2 separate regions of the Homo sapiens genome follow, and region 1 is linked to region 2. The links come from fine-mapping of genetic effects on gene expression. Tissue or cell type: sun-exposed skin. Region 2 holds a variant in brackets; the other region holds the start of a gene. All regions are shown on one strand. Distances are between the middles of the regions.

The links. PIP is the estimated chance that this variant, and not a neighbour inherited with it, causes the effect.
Region 1: LRATD1 starts here. The variant in region 2 is fine-mapped to the expression of LRATD1 in sun-exposed skin (GTEx, PIP 0.98).

Annotation. Positions count from the first base shown.
Region 1 is chr2:14,629,235-14,637,420 of GRCh38, reverse strand. LRATD1 (LRAT domain containing 1) reads right to left here and starts at 4,704. Exons shown (of 2, transcript NM_145175.4): 1 at 4,484-4,704; 2 at 1-3,477. The coding sequence starts at 3,441. The coding sequence ends at 2,563.
Region 2 is chr2:14,519,804-14,527,989 of GRCh38, reverse strand. No RefSeq gene overlaps it. Among named protein-coding and RNA genes, the nearest start is that of LRATD1, 110 kb to the left of the region's middle. The variant T/C (reference allele first, on the strand shown) is at 3,623.

The DNA.
Region 1 (8,186 bases), 110 kb before region 2:
CAGCAAGTATAAAACTGACAAGACATTCCTCTATGAGAGTGACCCTCTTAGTGAGAGAGAAATCTATGTACCATCAGAGGAAATAAATCTTAGTATTCGGTGTGATAGAGACTAATTCATTTCTTTTGATGAAGTCCCACTCTTTGAGTGACTTTGAAGGGGGAGACAAAATGTCAAGAAGGAGTCCTGCAGGAACAAGTGCTTAAGATGGTGTTTAATACAGCAGGGAGCCAAGATACAGTAGTAGGACACAGTAAAGAATGTGGAGTGTGTAGATACAATAAAGAATTCATTTTATGATCTGCCACCTGTTACTTGAAAGAGGAGTAAGTTAGGGAAATAAATGACTCAGTTCTTCATACATGCAAAGGTAAGTTAGTTATTACAAAAGTTTTTGCTGTTGTTTGTGCTGAAAGAAAAGCATATGCATTTAAACATTTTTTAAAAAATAAATCACTCAATAGGCTTAAGAAAAATACTTTAGTTCATAGTTCATTGATCTGACGTTTTGATTTAAGATCAGGGGATGAATCCAGGATGAAAACCAAAGAAAAAAAAAGAAAAAGAAAGAAAAATATAGAAGTGAATCATTTACCATGAAAAAGGCATTTCCAGCCTCAGCTAACCTCAACTAGTTTTTATTGCATTATTTTTGAAATGCCAAGAAACTGGCTTTGGCCATAATACTTGCTGTCCAACAAAATCACAGCTGTTAATATGCAATTGCTTGCAACAATTAGCTAAACAGCATTATTTGACAAATTCCCTTGAAAGAGACATAGATGCTATTTAAGTGTCTAGCACACTGAATCAAGTAACTATCAGTTAGGCTGGGGCCGCAGCTGGAGGGAGGAGAGAAGTTTACAAATCCTTGTCCACAGAAGGTGTTTCACACCCAGCCTTAAGTTTTTGAAAAACACACATTTGTCCTGATCCTACAAGTTCATCATCCCTGTTTTCAGGAAGAACTGAACTGTGGAACTGGCCAAAGAGGAGGGGGAAAAAGCCACCAACTCTAGATTCATTTTTAAGGAGATCAGGAGGAGAGGAAGAAAAATAGAAACGCGTATGTGAAATGGTAATGATATACAACATGGAGAAAAAAATAAACATCGTGGAACCTGCTAGCAATTTCCACCAATTTCCACCAAAGCAGTGAACCCCTTAACTGACAGAAATTCAGTACAATATACACATTAATTAACAACTCCACCATTACTAGGGCTGCTGTTGAAAGCCAAAAAATTAACTACAATATTGAAAAACAGAATGCTTACAATATCTGAGAAAAATAGAGTGAAAAGGCAATGTTAGCTAAGCTCTTAGCTACATCCACTCTTAATGGCCCCCAGTATTTAAACTATCATGGATTAAAGCCATGAAAATAAAAATTTCAATTTGAAATTTTATTAGCCTGTTGCTAAAATGGTCAATAAAAACATCAACACGATAGGCTTTGTTGACATAGTTGGAAAACTGCTCTCTCATTTTTAAAACTTTATTTCCACTTCCCCAGCTTTGAAGATTTCTATGTTAGGAAAAGCCAAACTAAATATACTGGCTATGGTGTTGTAACAATGCTGGTTTCTGGAATGGTGCCATGTCCTCCCCCTCCCTCTCCTCCAACTCCTTTAAAAATATGACTATTTTTGAAATGCAGCCCGAGGAGGGAGCAATCAAGGGTTCAGAACAATAAGCGCCCTTCACACATTCAAGTTCCCAGACACCAGGTGAACGAGCGAGCTCCTTGTCGGGGGCGGGGCCGGCTGTCCTCACCGAATTCGCAGCGCCATCTTCCTCCCGGGACCGGGCCGGCTTCCCTTCTGCCAGCGAGGGAGACTCGCAGGCAAAGGCGGGTGGGGGTGGCGTTCGCTTCCCACGGTGGAAAGAACCGGAGGCAAACACTGTCTGGCTTAGCCCGCAGCCTGGAACACAATGTCAGGAGACCTGGGGCTGGAGAGCTGGAAAAGTCCCGGGCAGCCTCAGGATAACCCGGAATCCCGAAGTGCTGTCTTGGGGAATTATTCCCAAGTGCACAAGGGACAGGCTCGATTTCTTGGAAATCCTGCGATCTGGGGACGCATCCACAGAGGAGCTGAACTGTGCCCTGTAGAGACCAGTTCTCGCCTCCGACCGGTCTGTGTGCGCACGCTCGGGGCGGTGATGGTCCCTTTTGAGAAGAGGGTTGTTTTCGAGTCGGGCCACAGTCACTGGCCATGGACTCGCGGGGAAGGCCATGTCCTTTCTCCCCTCAGCCCCTTCCCCGTTCCCGGTTTACATCTCAAGGGGAAAGCGCACGCGGGGTCTCCCAGCACCGTCACCACCGCTGTGGCTGTCAGCCAGGCGCTCGCAGCGGCGCCCTTTCGGCCCTGGGGCAGTTCCTGAGACTTCCTGCCGCTGGCTTGGGGATGCGGGGGTGCAGCCCGGGCCCGGGCCACCGGCGGCGGACGCGCGTGGCGGGGCGGGGCAGAGGTTGAGAACCGCTGACTGCGAAGTCCGGGTGCGGGGAAGGGAAGGGAGCGAGGTGCGGGGGAGGCAGAGGGGCCGGCAGCCCCTAGGCGGCTACTCCTTGTCGTCCACGAGGTCGGCGAGCTCCTGGAGCACTCGCAGGCGGCCGCTGGCGTCGATACGGCGCTTCTCGCGGATGAGGTCTTCCAGGCTGTGAAACCTGGCGGTGTGGACCTTGTTCTCTCCCAGGTGCACCTTGAGATAGTACTGCTGCTGCGGGGGCTGCGTGCCTGCCGGCACCTCCCCTCCCGCCTTGAACTCCCGCTTGCCAAAGCGGCACCAGGCGGCGAAGCTCTCCGAGTTCGTCCAGCAGATCTCCTCGCTCTTGAGGCCCAGGTGGCCGCAGGCGTTCTGCACCACCAGCTCGGCCACCAGCGGGCGGTAGCGGTACCAGCTATTCACCACCCGGCCCACGTTGGCCGCGCCCGCCTCATACAGGCTGTCCTGGCGGATCTCGCCTTGGTGCAGGTGGATGATCTGCCCGCCGCCCACGTAGACGGCCCAGTGCGGGGCGGGCGCGGGCGGCTCCGGCGCGGGCTGCAGCCACAGCAGCTCCAGCAGGTCGCCGGGTTCGCAGAGCGCTGGCAGCGCGGTGACCGCGTAGACGCTTAGGTCGGCGCCCTGAGGGCCACCGCTCACTTTGGAAAAGATGCATTCCTGGCCCCGAAAGGCGGAAAACTGAGTCTCGTTGAGGACCAGCTGGTGCAGCAGGTGGTGGTGGTGGCGGCTGGGGCTCTCCGGGCAGGGGGTGCAACCCGGGGGGGCCTTCACGCCAAACTTGTCGGGCTGCCCGCGTTCGTCCAGGTCTTCCTCATCATCCGAGAAGAAGTAGGCAACCCCGACCCGCAGTTCGTCCTTTTCAATCCCCGACGGGTCCCCTGTGGGCAACTCGCTGTAGTTGAGGTGGGTGATGCGGTCCAGTTGGTTGCCCATCAATGAGGTGGCGAGGCGAGGGCCAGGAGCGGGGATCTGCGGAGGCACAGAGAGGCAGAGACACCGTCAGAGTCCGGGCTGCCCCTTTCGGTGTCCCTCCCCAAGACGTGCAGTGCCCCTGGGACCTGCCGGCTAGCTTACGTGCCCTCACCGGAGTCACCCTTTCCAGCCGAGTCCTCCGTGCCTCCCCAGGGGTACGAGGGGCGGAGAAGCCGCCACAGGTCAGGCGAGAGCAGACGCCACCACACAGCCTCCGACCCCTTCCGGGAACTCGGTCCAACTCCCAGAAGAAAACACCCAGGCTGGCTGGAGAGCTTGCGGGGTCCCGGTGGGGAGGAGAGTGCTGGCTGTGGCAGTGTGGGAGACGGACACCCAGGAAGGACCGAGGGGTGGGCTGAAAGGGAGAAGGGAGCCTAAGGCCAGTGAGCTGGGAGCAAGCTCCCATTTCTGTCCCCACCCTCTCCAGCCCACCTCCCAGTTTTGCACTAGGTTGCCTTCCTCCCCTTACAGCGGCTCGCACAATGACAATCAGACACATTCTCAGGCATTCACTTGACACCAGCAACATTTTGGACACTTGGGAGTCCAGACACTGGCAGCCTGGTATACTGGTGTATGTCACATACACCCACAATGACAAACCTTCGCGACGACACACTGGCACACTTAGACCCCACACATTCGTACACAATTTCAGCTCCACGCTTGCACGCTCGCCGTTGCACGTACGCCCAAGCACCCGGGCACACCTGCCCTCACAGGCAGGTGCACTCTGCCCCTTACTTCTCTTGCCTTGTCCCCATCAGGGCCAATGGGACTGCGCCAGGGCGAGGCTGCTCTGTCTAAAATAACCTAACAAAGAGGCAGGGGAAGGATGGAGAAAGCCAGTGCAGTGTATGTGTGTGGGTGTGGGTGGGAGCGTGTGTGTGTAGAGAGGTTCACTTTTAGCCCAAAGACCCCTCTCCCTCCTACCCAGCACAGGATCCAAACAATCGGATGAAGAAAAACCGTTTCCAAGGCAAAGAAAGCCGCTTCTCCCTACCCGTGATTTCCCTGCTCCCGAAACCCCAAACTCCTTTAAAGTCTCCTGGTCCCCATGGGTGCTGAGGAAGCGGCGGTGGCGAGTGGGTCCTGGGCTGCGCGTGGGGCTGCGGCTCCGCTCTACCCCGAGCCGAATCGTGCGGTGCGGCGCCCGTGCGCCTCCAGGTCTGCGCTGGCCGGGGCGCCTGCTCCCACTGGACAGTCCCGGCTCGGCTCTGCTTTCCCACCGCCGCGCCGACGACTCTAAGTAGCCGGAGCAGCCGGTCCCAGGGCCCGCCCCAGGACGCGCTCATTGGTTGGGGCGGGTGCTCGAGCTGTGTCAATCTTCGCCGGCGGGGGAGGGGAGCAGAGGCGGGCCTCCTGTGCGCTTTGCTCTGCTCCGCTCCGCCCCGCCCCGTACCCCGCACACCCGACCGCGCGCCGCCCCGGGGAGCGGAGGTGTGCGCACCCGCGGGGGGCGCGGCGCTTTCTGCCAGGTGCCGATGCCCGCTTGCGCCCGCGCCCCCCAGCTCATCCGAGCTGATTGTGACTGAGAACACAGCCCGCCCGCGTTCCGTGTTCCAGGAAGACAGACTCCAGCGGGGAAGCTGAGTCTGGGTATGGAGAAGAAACCCCAGGGCACCCCAGTATGGCCCAGGCACTGCGAGCGGCCCGGGGCAGGCAGCGACATTGCCCGAGGCGGGCGTCTGGGCCCTGCTGGGATCCCCCAGAGCCTTGGTTCCCGATGGCCCCTAGGCTGGTCCTTGGATCGAAGACCCTTTTCGTTCCCCAGACGTCTTTGAAATTGCTCCTGCGACGTTTGGCTCCTCTTCTTTGACTGGAGTGAGGCTGCTGACCCAGAGCTGATGCCCGATTTAAAAGGAGCTTGGTGTCAAATGCCACCCAAAAGCCTGAGCTTTGGCCGGTGCATTCCCTGGCTGTGCCTATGATATTGGCCTCCAATTTTCTGAATATAGGAGGAGTACCTCACAACTCATGTATGTGAGTTCATACATGCAAGCAGAGAGTAGGATGTAAAAGTGTTTTCCAAGCCTCAGAATTGGGATTGCTAAGCAAGTTTTGTTTGGTTTTGTGGGAAAGGAGGCTCCAGCAGTAGTTAATGATTACATTTCTGGATGGAAAGTTAATGAATGAATGTGTTCTGAATATTGGATGCTGAAAAAATGAACTTCATATATACAACATTCCAGACCAATAGTTTCAAAAGTTCCTAACATTAAGCCTCAAAGAGTTCTTAGACATCTGGTTCTGGCCCCAATGCTACTCATCTTTAAGCCTGGGCTCCAGCAGCTTTTCTATGAAGCCTCTTTTCTTTCCCAATGAGGAATTTGATACTTCCTATTTGAACCCCCCACCTCTTCCCTACAAAGCGAATTCCTTGAGAATAGACTTTGCATTCTGCACAACCTTGTATTCTGGGCCTCTTTCCCAATGCTAGTCATGCAGTGTGTTCCATCAGTAATAGTAAAAATGAAAACAGCCTGTATTGACCACTTATACGTGGTCAGACACTTAAGAGTAAATTAAGTAGACAATTTAATCATTATTCCTCTGTAGGGTACTCACTAATATCCGAATTGTAACAAACAGGGAAACAAAAGCTCCAATACTAGTACCAGCAATCCATCCAAGCCTACGGGATACCAGATCCAGTCTTTCACTAAGTTATAGTGTTTATTGAATAAAATCTTGTTTCATAAAATGAGAAAACTGGTGTTTCAGAGAAGTTAGATGATTGGCTCAAGGTTACATGGAGACTGATCCATATTACAACCCCCTTTTTCTTTGCTAGACTTTTCTGCTTGAATATCTTCAAACCGCCAAGCCTCCAGTTTATGTTTGCTTTCTGAAGGTCTCTGTACACCCCCACAGCCTCCAAATGCAGTGATTTATCAAATTAGATGCTAAAATATTGCTGGAAAAAATGGTTTTAAATGACCATCGGTATACAATTGATGTACCTAAATCTTTTTGGAAATTTGGCTATTGTCCATGTGCATGCAAGTTATCAGAAAACAAGTTGCCATTCGTGGAACTGACCACAGGTTGAGATGGCCTTTTTTATACTTGCCATAAGTAATAAACAACTCATTTTGGCCCTGAAGTCAAGAGAATTGAACAAGTAGCTTTAGAGATAAGGAGTGAGTTATTGGTCTTGTTATAAACTGGACTTCAGGGCTGTCTGGGATGAGGGTATCTGAAGAGTTCATTGTTGATGTCTGAGAAGAACTCTTTGAAAGCAACTCAGCGTTTGAATAACTTAAAAAATATCCTCCCTCCATCCCCAAGATCAAGCCTTGTGCACAGACATTTACAACTCATTTGTTGTGTTCTGCCCTACGTGTTCTATTTCATTCTGCTCCAGACTACAGAGTAAGCAGGTCGTTCCTCTTTGTTTAGTATTCCAATACTATAAAGCATAATTAAGATAAAATGTTGTCAGTTATTGGAGATATAGTGCCTAAAGTTTAAAATTTTTGGCCTCTCCGTTTCCTCTCATTCCCCCTGCTAGGCTAAACGGCTAACTGCTTTTGTAATCACATGGGAGAAAAAATACCCTGGAGCCCCCTTGAAACATAAGGCAGGGAACACATTGACTGTGAGGCTTGAAATAAAGGGAGCTAAAAGTAAACTAAGGAAAATACATCTACACTTTGTCTTCTTTTGGCACTTACCAGATAATAAAGTAAGACAATCAAATGAAGGATGCTGATTGTAGAAAATGTTTTATGTTCATCACAAAATATTGTTTTCAAATTGTTTTGACTTTTATTTTTTACTCCATCCTGCCTGCTTTTACAATGAGAAAATACAGTGCTGTCCAAAGTAGAATATAGTTGTCCAAAACACAAACTCTGAAAGCCAACTAATTTAAACTCTTTTTCAACATTTATTGCTGGGTAACCTCGAGTCCGTTATTTAAACTTTGTGGGCATCAGGAAACTTCCTTATCTGTAAAAAAGAGATAATAATAGTGGTTACCTCACTGAATTGTTGTGAGTTCATACATGTAAGCATAGTGTCTGACGCACAGTGAGTTTTCAATCAAGGCTATCTTATTATTATTCTTGGTGGAAGAGAGAGGTCTCATACCCTACTTGTTTAGGACAGCTGTGCAGTTCTCTTTCTCCTTTGCCCCAGGCTAAAGGTAGCAATAGATAGTGTCCAAGGCTTTCCCTGATTGGGGTGTAGGACTGCTTCTGTGTTAAGGTGGTGAGATCCCTGCCTATCCTTCAAATACTCTGAGACCTAAAGCTCTCTATAGATTTCAGCATGTGAGCCCCTGGGCTGATCATGTGGTAGCAGGGAGTGGGGTGGGGGTTCCCTGAAGGATTTTTAATTGTTTTAAATGAACATTTCCGGTGTGAGGAATTTGTGTGGGGAAAAAAGTTACAGGGGAGTGATTAGGAGTCAATCAAATGTATGTGATCTTTTCTGCTGGTGCCATCTGATGTATCCTCTCTCTCTCTTTTTTTTTTTTTGTTTTTGGTTGCTTCTTTGGCACTATTTGAAAAGCTTTACTCCAAATTTTACTGAACAGGTCCTTGGCTCAAACTGTCATCCTTTAAAATTGGCCTTGGAGCTTGGAGTAAGGGTTCAGGAAAATTATATGCCCCACTTTATCCTTTAATGAAATGAACTGTTCCATCTCCTGTCCTTCACTGCCTTAGGCAGTTAACATACTCACCCTGGTCTGAGCTAAA
Region 2 (8,186 bases):
TCCTTGGCTGTCCATTCACAACCACCTCCTAGTAACTAGGCTTTAGAAAGTACACTGAAGGAAAACATCAGTGACCATCGTGAGATGTACAAGTAGCACAATAATGACCATGTGCATAGCAATTCATAGCATACAGAATACTTTCATATAAGTCATTAAAATTTTAGGAAGTAGCATTTACTTCATAAGGCTGCAGAGGGGAGCTAAATGGACTAACTCAGGGAAATTTATTGACACATTCCCCAGCACACAGCAAGTGCTAAATTTTATCTTAAATTTTTAAATTAAAAATGTATTGTGGGCCAGGTGTGGTGGCTCACGCCTATAATCCCAACACTTCGGGAGGTTGAGGCAGGCAGATCACTTGAGCTCAGAAGTTCGAGAACAGCCTGGCCAACATGGTGAAACCCTGTCTCTACTAAAAATACAAAAATTACCTGGGCGTGGTGGTGGGGCATCTGTAATCCCAACTACTCGGGGGCTAAGGCACCAGAATCTCGTGAACCTGGGAGGCAGAATTTGCAGTGAGCAGAGATCGTGCCACTGCATTCCAGCCTGGGTGACGGAGCAGGACTCAGTCTCAAAAAGAAAAAAAAAAACATATGCACACATACACACACATTGTGTATTAGTGTTCACAATAAGCCTGTGTGGATAAAATATTTTTATTCTAGTTTTGCAGAAGAGGAAATTGATGCATAAAGAGATAAGGTGATTCATTTGATGGTATCCATATTGTATAGTAGGTGTCTGAGCAAGGACTCTGTCTCCCATGACAAATTCTGGGTATCTCCACTGGACCGGGCTCACATATGGAGTGGGAACTGTGAATCTTATAGAACCAGGAAGTCTCATAATCCTTTAGTGGCGGTGACAGGAGCACTTAACTCTAGAATATCTGAGATTTGTCCTTTCCTCTATCTTCCCCTCTAATATCTTCTTTCACACCTGCCTTTCTCCACTTTCTTGTATTCCTTCTCGGACTTTCTTTATCTTCTCTTCCCTTTTTTCTCTTTCTCTCAAGAATCTGGTAACTTCACAGAGCTGGAGCCTCTTTTCTTCTTCGAAATATATCTATAATTCTTGAGCTCCACTTTATTTTTCCCAAGGGAAGCCTTTCCTTATCCTGATTAAGATGAGTGTTCTACTCTGGTCCCTGTGCTGCTTGGCTGGAGCCAAACACCCTTCTGAGTTCATGCAGACTTCATCTCGCAAGACACTGGATCCAGATCCCCATCTACCACTGGACCTGAGGGACAGAGGAAACTATTCCTTTCCCCTAGCTTCCCTTCTAATATCTTTATTCTTTCCTGCATTTCTCTACGTTCTTGTATTCTTCGTCTGGCTTTATTTCATACTCTATTGTTTGCTCTTTCTCCCAAGAATATGGTAACTTCACAGAGCTGGAGCCTCTTTTCTTTACAGCTTTGAGCCCATTCTCTCTTGGCACTAAGGTTCTTGTGTCTGCCAGGCTCTACCTGACATCACCCTTGAACATCCCCTGAATGTGTGCTTAAAGTTTGCATGTACTATGCATACTCTTCTTTTGTCCTGTCAATGGAGGGCTGCTCTTGCCTCTGGTTTCTGCGTCCTTCCACCCAAGCCTTGGCTGCTGAGGCCCATACCCTTGTAAAGTATAATATGTTCTCCTTCTCCTTCAGGGGTTCTGTATCCTTATCAAGGAAGCTTGGTGAGGAACTGAGAATACCCATTTTCTTTTATTGATTAGTCTTCAACTCTGCGAAATTTTAACTGATTCAATAAGTTTAATTATTTTAAGATTGAGGATTTTTTTTTCTGTGAAAATACTATAAAATCATGCTATTGATCTCAACCTTTAGATTTAAGGGTTAACGATTGTTTTCTATAGAACTCTCAATTTCATGCTAAATTTTTCTTTTTAAAGGACATGTTTTTCCACATGGTAAGATTGGATAATAATCATTTGAACTAGACCAGAATTTAATTCTGATGTCATTCATATAGAAGATTATTTTTGCTTATGAATAATTTAAACCAATTTTTGGTTTGCTGTGTTCAGTAAAGAAATCCAGTTGAGTATATATTTCTCTTCTCTTTTCTATCTTTGTTAGTCACCATGTGTTTTTAAATTTAAATTAGTGTATGTATTATTAGATGTGTGACATAGAAAATGCCTAACCTATATGGAAATTCAAGGTTCCAAAAGCTATGTAATTTGAGTTAGATAATATAAGACCTTGACTTGTTTCTTTATTGCTGAGTTCTGGTATATTTTTATATAAGCCATTGTTGCATAGCCTAAAAGAGAATTGCTTCCTTTATCAACCTCATTTTACTCGACAGTAACAAACTAAATTTTAACTCAATGATGGCCAATGGCTATTTCAGGTCTAACATCTTTTTCATGTTAGTCCCAAATCACCAACCTTACATAAAACATGTAAGTAAAACTCAATTATTTAGTATAAAAATCTCAGATATCTTGTATTTTTTTACGTTACTAAAAAGGACCACAAGATAAATATATTTCCCTCACTAGGTGAATACTGGCTTCTCTAGTCCAAACAAAAGCATAGTTTTCTTTCTTTATTTCTTCCTTTCTTCCATTTTCCTCCCTTCCTTCCTTGCTCCCACCCTCCCTCCTTCTCCTCTTCCTTCCTCTTTCCTTCCTTTCCCTTTTCTTCTTTCTTTTACCTTACTTTGTTTGATAGCGTCTTGTGTGATTAAAATGTCTATATTGGTACAACCTCACAAGATTTTAGATGGATTAATTTCTTTTAAAACTAAGTTGCACTTTTAGGGGAGATGCTTAATCATTCCAATATATAAGGATATTTGCACTTTCAGATACAGACTCCCAAAACTTGGAAACATTATTCAAATGCGTGCACATTTAAAAATCTTCTCAGACATTGTTACTTTATTTCTACCAGATGGCTCTGTGATTCATTAAAGCCTGTGATTCCATTAAATGGGGGGCAGCTCAATGGGAAACTCTGACTGTCTCTGATTGTTCCACCACCTTACCTTGAATCTGCCTACCTACATTTCATTAAAGCAATAAACCATGCCCTTGCATATTCCTGTGGTTTAATGTTTAGGAGACTTAGATGGCTGATCACTGAGTAAGAACACACAATCTTGTGAGCCATCAGGGTTTCTCAGAACTCTTTCAATTCTCAAAAGTCCTTAATTTGAAGAGGCAGTTCGCTAATGCCTTAAACAAGTTCCCATGACCTCTCCATCTGCTTTCATTAAAATAGGGTAAATTGCTCGCTCTTCTTTCACTTTCTCCAAAAGTGACATGGACGTGATTACTGTCTCCATCGCCCAAACAACAAGTCATCTGATAACCCTCCACTTCTCCCTTCAGAATCCACAGCACGCCACCTCTGGAAGAATGGTGTGGGGGAGTAGAGCATACAAACCTGCTATGTGAGTTGAAGGAGCTATTCACACACCTTTGCATTTCTCTTACTGCAGGTATTTAACCTACGGCAAGTGTATTCAGACTTTCCACATATATCCAAACATTCTTACTGACAGGTGTCAATTATAATTAATATAAATATTTTTGTTAAATATATCTAGCAGTCCATTCTATACTCTTAGAGCCTGCTGTATCCAGTACGTAATGGTA[T/C]TATTGTCAGTTTAATCATCTCTGTCTCTCTCCTATAAAACTCAGATCTCTTTGAGGTCATCAGCTTTGTAATATTTGTTTACTTCCTGCAGATTCTGGTACAGTTTCTGTGGTTGAATGACTAACTCATTGACCACTCTTGTTTGATCACATCCAGGGGAGGAATATACTTAACCAGATTTTTTATGAGGGAGGCCAAGTGTTCAGACCAAGAACTCTAAACTAGTAATTTACTTCATTGAAATTAACCCCACATATTCTGGTACTTTGTTATTTATACTACAACATTTATTTATACAACACATCCCATAAAAAAGAAGGATACATTGGAGGAAATGAAACTGAATTTGAGGCTTAACAAATTGGTATAATCAAATCCCATCAGTGTAGCAAAAATGAGAGAAAATCCTAGACAGTGAAATCTAGGAGATGGAGATGAGGGGAAGAAGTGAATATGGGTTTAGAAAAGGGTTTGCCTTTCTTTCTTTCTTTTTTTTTTTTTTTTTGATGGAGTTTCTCTCTTTTTGCGCAGGCTGGAGTGCAGTGGCACAATCTCAGCTCACTGCAACTTCTGCCTCCCGGGTTCTAGTGATTCTCCTTCCTTAGCCTCCAGAGTAGCTGGGATTACAGGTGCGCACCACCACACCCGACTAATTTTGTATTTTTAGTAGAGACGGGGTTTCACCATGTTGGCCTCGCTGGTCTCGAACTCCTGACCTCATGTGATCTGCCCGCCTCAGCCTCCCAAAGTGCTGGGATTATAGGCATGAACTCCCGTGCCCGGCCTGCCTCTCTTTTACTTACTCTTAGAACTGGAATCTTGTGGAACAGGCTGTGCAGTTTTGAATATTTGCTGCCTACATTTTACATACCTTTTTCAAGACGTCTACTGCAGGAAAAAAAAACCTATCATAAGAGATAAACACTCAGACAATATAATACCGTGTTTGCTTATAGCTTCTCCCCTAAAGTTAACTGTCAGTTAAGACTGTCTGTTTTAGCCATGAGAAACCCACAACTGGATTGTGTGAATCTTGTGCTTTCAGGCACCGAGTGGGGCTTTGCCACCGATGCCTTCATTCATACTCCTTAGGTCAGCTGGTCACTTAGTTGGCATGTTGGATCTGCTTGGATTGCAGTAAAGCTGCAAATATCATTCCTGGACTCAAGAGACTGGTAATTTATAAAAGGAGACAAAATTTTAGTGTAACATACAGTAAAGTGTAATAAGTGACTCAAACTACTAGTCTTGAACAGAGAAATTGTAAACGAATAACACAAGAGCTTACTACTTCTGATTTTCTGCTCATATAGGTATGTCTTGTTTTAAAATATTTCTTTATGCCCCAAATTATGCACAAATACAAACACACAGGCACACTACAGCATGATGATATGTTCCAAACACAGAACAGCTGTGAAGAACATTCTTGAACTCAATGAACTCCACCCTTGCTAAAAGAGAAAAATGAACAGTGTTATCCATGAATATATATTATCCTACATACATACACTATATGTATGTATGTATTTACACATATGGCTAGTATTTCATAATATATACACATACATACATACATACATATGTTAATATTTAGGGTATAAAAATTCTCACATTAGATAAAATATTGCTAAAAAGCCTAGAAACTTCTCTCAAGTGGATAGATACTAGATCCATAAATTAAAATACTTTTTTTTGAAAAGTCAGAGGAAAAATATTCTGATACTTTGAATGGCTACTCAAATAATTACAAGAATAATTAAAGGTAACATTTTCTTGTCCTGACTTTGAATTTGTTTGGGAGGAGTAATAGTATGTATTCAATTCTTCCTAATAATTAGTGTCAAGAAAAAATGTATCTTCTGTTCATTCCTCTTTTGGACAAAAAGCTGACGGTAGCTGAGGACTGGATAAGGAATGTATTAGTCTGTTCTCATGCTGCTAATAAAGACATACCCAATGCTGGTAGTTTATAAAGGAAAGAGGTTTAATTGACTCACAGTTTCACATGGCTGGGGAGACCCTACCATCATGGTGGAAGGCAAAGGAAGAGCCAAGTCATGTCTTACATGGAGGTAGGCTAGAGAGTGTGTATAGGAGAACTCCCCTTTATAATACCATCAGATCTTGTGAGACTTACTCACTATCATGAGAACAGCCTGGGAAAGACCCATCCCCATGTTTCAACTACCCCCCACCAGGGTCCTTCCCCCGACATGTGGGAATTATGGGAGCTACAATTAAGATGAAATCTGGGTGGGGACACAGTCAAACCATATCAAGGGAAGTATGGTGGTTCGAATATTAGTACCAGACAATGTTGTTACTATAACTCGGCAGTCATTAATTTATCCATTCAAAAAATATTTACTGAGCTCAAGGCCAAGCACATAGAACCAATGCTGGGAGTAAAGATAAAAAACACACGCAAGACAAAATCCATATTCCAAAAACAATAGCAGAAATATTTCCTGTCCCACATGCTCTTCCAGAACTTTTTATGAAGTCTATGCCCTCTCCTCTTGAACTTGGTCAGGCTTTTGTAACTGACTTGACTGTACAGCAACCCTGACTTCTGAGGCCAGGTCATAAAAGGTAATGCAACTTCTGGTTTTCTTGGGATACTTGCTTTGAGGGCCTTGAGCTGCCATTTGAGAAGTTTGAGGTTGCCATCTTGTGCGGAAGCCCAAACTAACTCACGCGGAGCAAACACATGGAGAAGAGAGATGTCCAGTCAGCCCTTAGCTGCCTTCCACTGTTCCGGCTCTAGTCACTATCTGCCGACTGCAGAAGACTGCAGATCTATGCAGATATGCCCAAGACTGAACCATCTATGACTACAGAAGAAACTCCAAGCCAGAATTGCCCAACTAGATGATTCTCAAATTTCTGACCCCTAGAAATCATGAGAGATAAATGGTTGTTGTATTTTAAATAACTATTTTTAGATTATTTGTTACACAACAATTGATAACTAGAACAGACCTGAAGTATATTCTAATTTCATGGGAGATATGAGCCTTAATAATTTACATAAATTTCATAATAAATTATATATAGATCACAATGTAAGAGAGAGAGACTTATAAATATCACAAGAGAAAAGTAATTAAAGCACCATATAAACTCAGAGAAAGATGGAATGAAGTACCCCTGAAGCTAACATTGAAAACCCTGTCGGAGAGCTGGTGAATGAACTGGGCCTTCACTTAAGGATGAAATTTGGACATGAAAAATAAGAAAATTTCAGGTAGAAGGAACAAGTTACTCATCAACATATAACTGGCTTTACATATAATATCTTACACGTGACTCAATTATAGTGGCCCATTCAAACCTTATAGGACAAGATTACCGTTCTATGGTGCCTTATGCCATTTTGTCTTATGGCAAAATCATCCTTATGTTTTTACTTCTACTCTGGAATTCATATCCGTTTCATACAATATGTGTTATTTTGAGAGTTGCTGGGATTTATGGCATCCTCTGTCTTCATCAAAATCACTTTGTCAGAGCACCTGCTATGTTCTTGTCCCTCTGGCTGGCTTTGGAGAAAAGGGAGGAACAGGACATTATCTTTGCCTTAAAGGAGCTCATGGCCTAGTCACAGCGGCAGTGCTGAGAACTGGGGGATTAAAAGAACGGCAAGTTAAGAGAAAACTAGTGGCACATAGGAGGGAGTAAGCAACTGTGCAGAGGAGGTGATATTCTGACTGAATCATTAAGGATGGAGCTTTGCCAGACAGAAAGAGAAGAAAGAATTCCCGGCAGGGGGGTGGTGGCATGTACCTGTAATCCCAGCTACTCAGGAGGCTGAGGCAGGAGAATGGTGTGAACCCGGGAAGCGGAGCTTGCAAAGAGCCGAGATCACGCCACTGCACTCCAGCCTGGATGACAGAGCAAGACTCCATCTCAAAAAAAAAAAAAAAAAAAAAATTCCCGGCAGAGAAGACAGGAAGAGAAGCAGCGCCAAATGTAAAACATGGTATGTTTTGGGAAATACAAATAGTTCAGCACAACCCAGGGCATAAGATCTAAATCGGGAACCTGAGTGTTGAGCTAGAAAAGGTGGCAGAAGGCAGCTTACTGAGGGGCCTGCATTCCTCATTTGCTGAGAGGTTTGGCCTCATCCCAAAGGTGACAGAGAACCTTAGGAAAGGTCTCATTGTACTGAGCTTATACAGTCAAATTGTAATTATTTCTTACGTAACTGTTCTCTCTATGTATGGTTTTTGGAGACAGAACATACTTTTTGTTGAAAAACCATCACATTTCTGCCTACTTTAAGATTCTGACATGCATTTTCCCAATGGGTAGTATTCACCCTAATGATTAGACCTAATGTAGCCTGAAGAAAATGTCACCTTACAGGAATCAGAGGCAATGTATTCCAAAGTGTTTTCCACTCACTGCTCTTTCTGGAAATGTGGTTTCTCATGCCATGAAACTTGCATGATGCCATAAAGACACTGATTGTACTAATTTATGGACCCTGGCTCTGTCAGATACATTGATCTCCTAGAGACAGATTAATTACAATTCAAGGACCCCTACCCCCATACA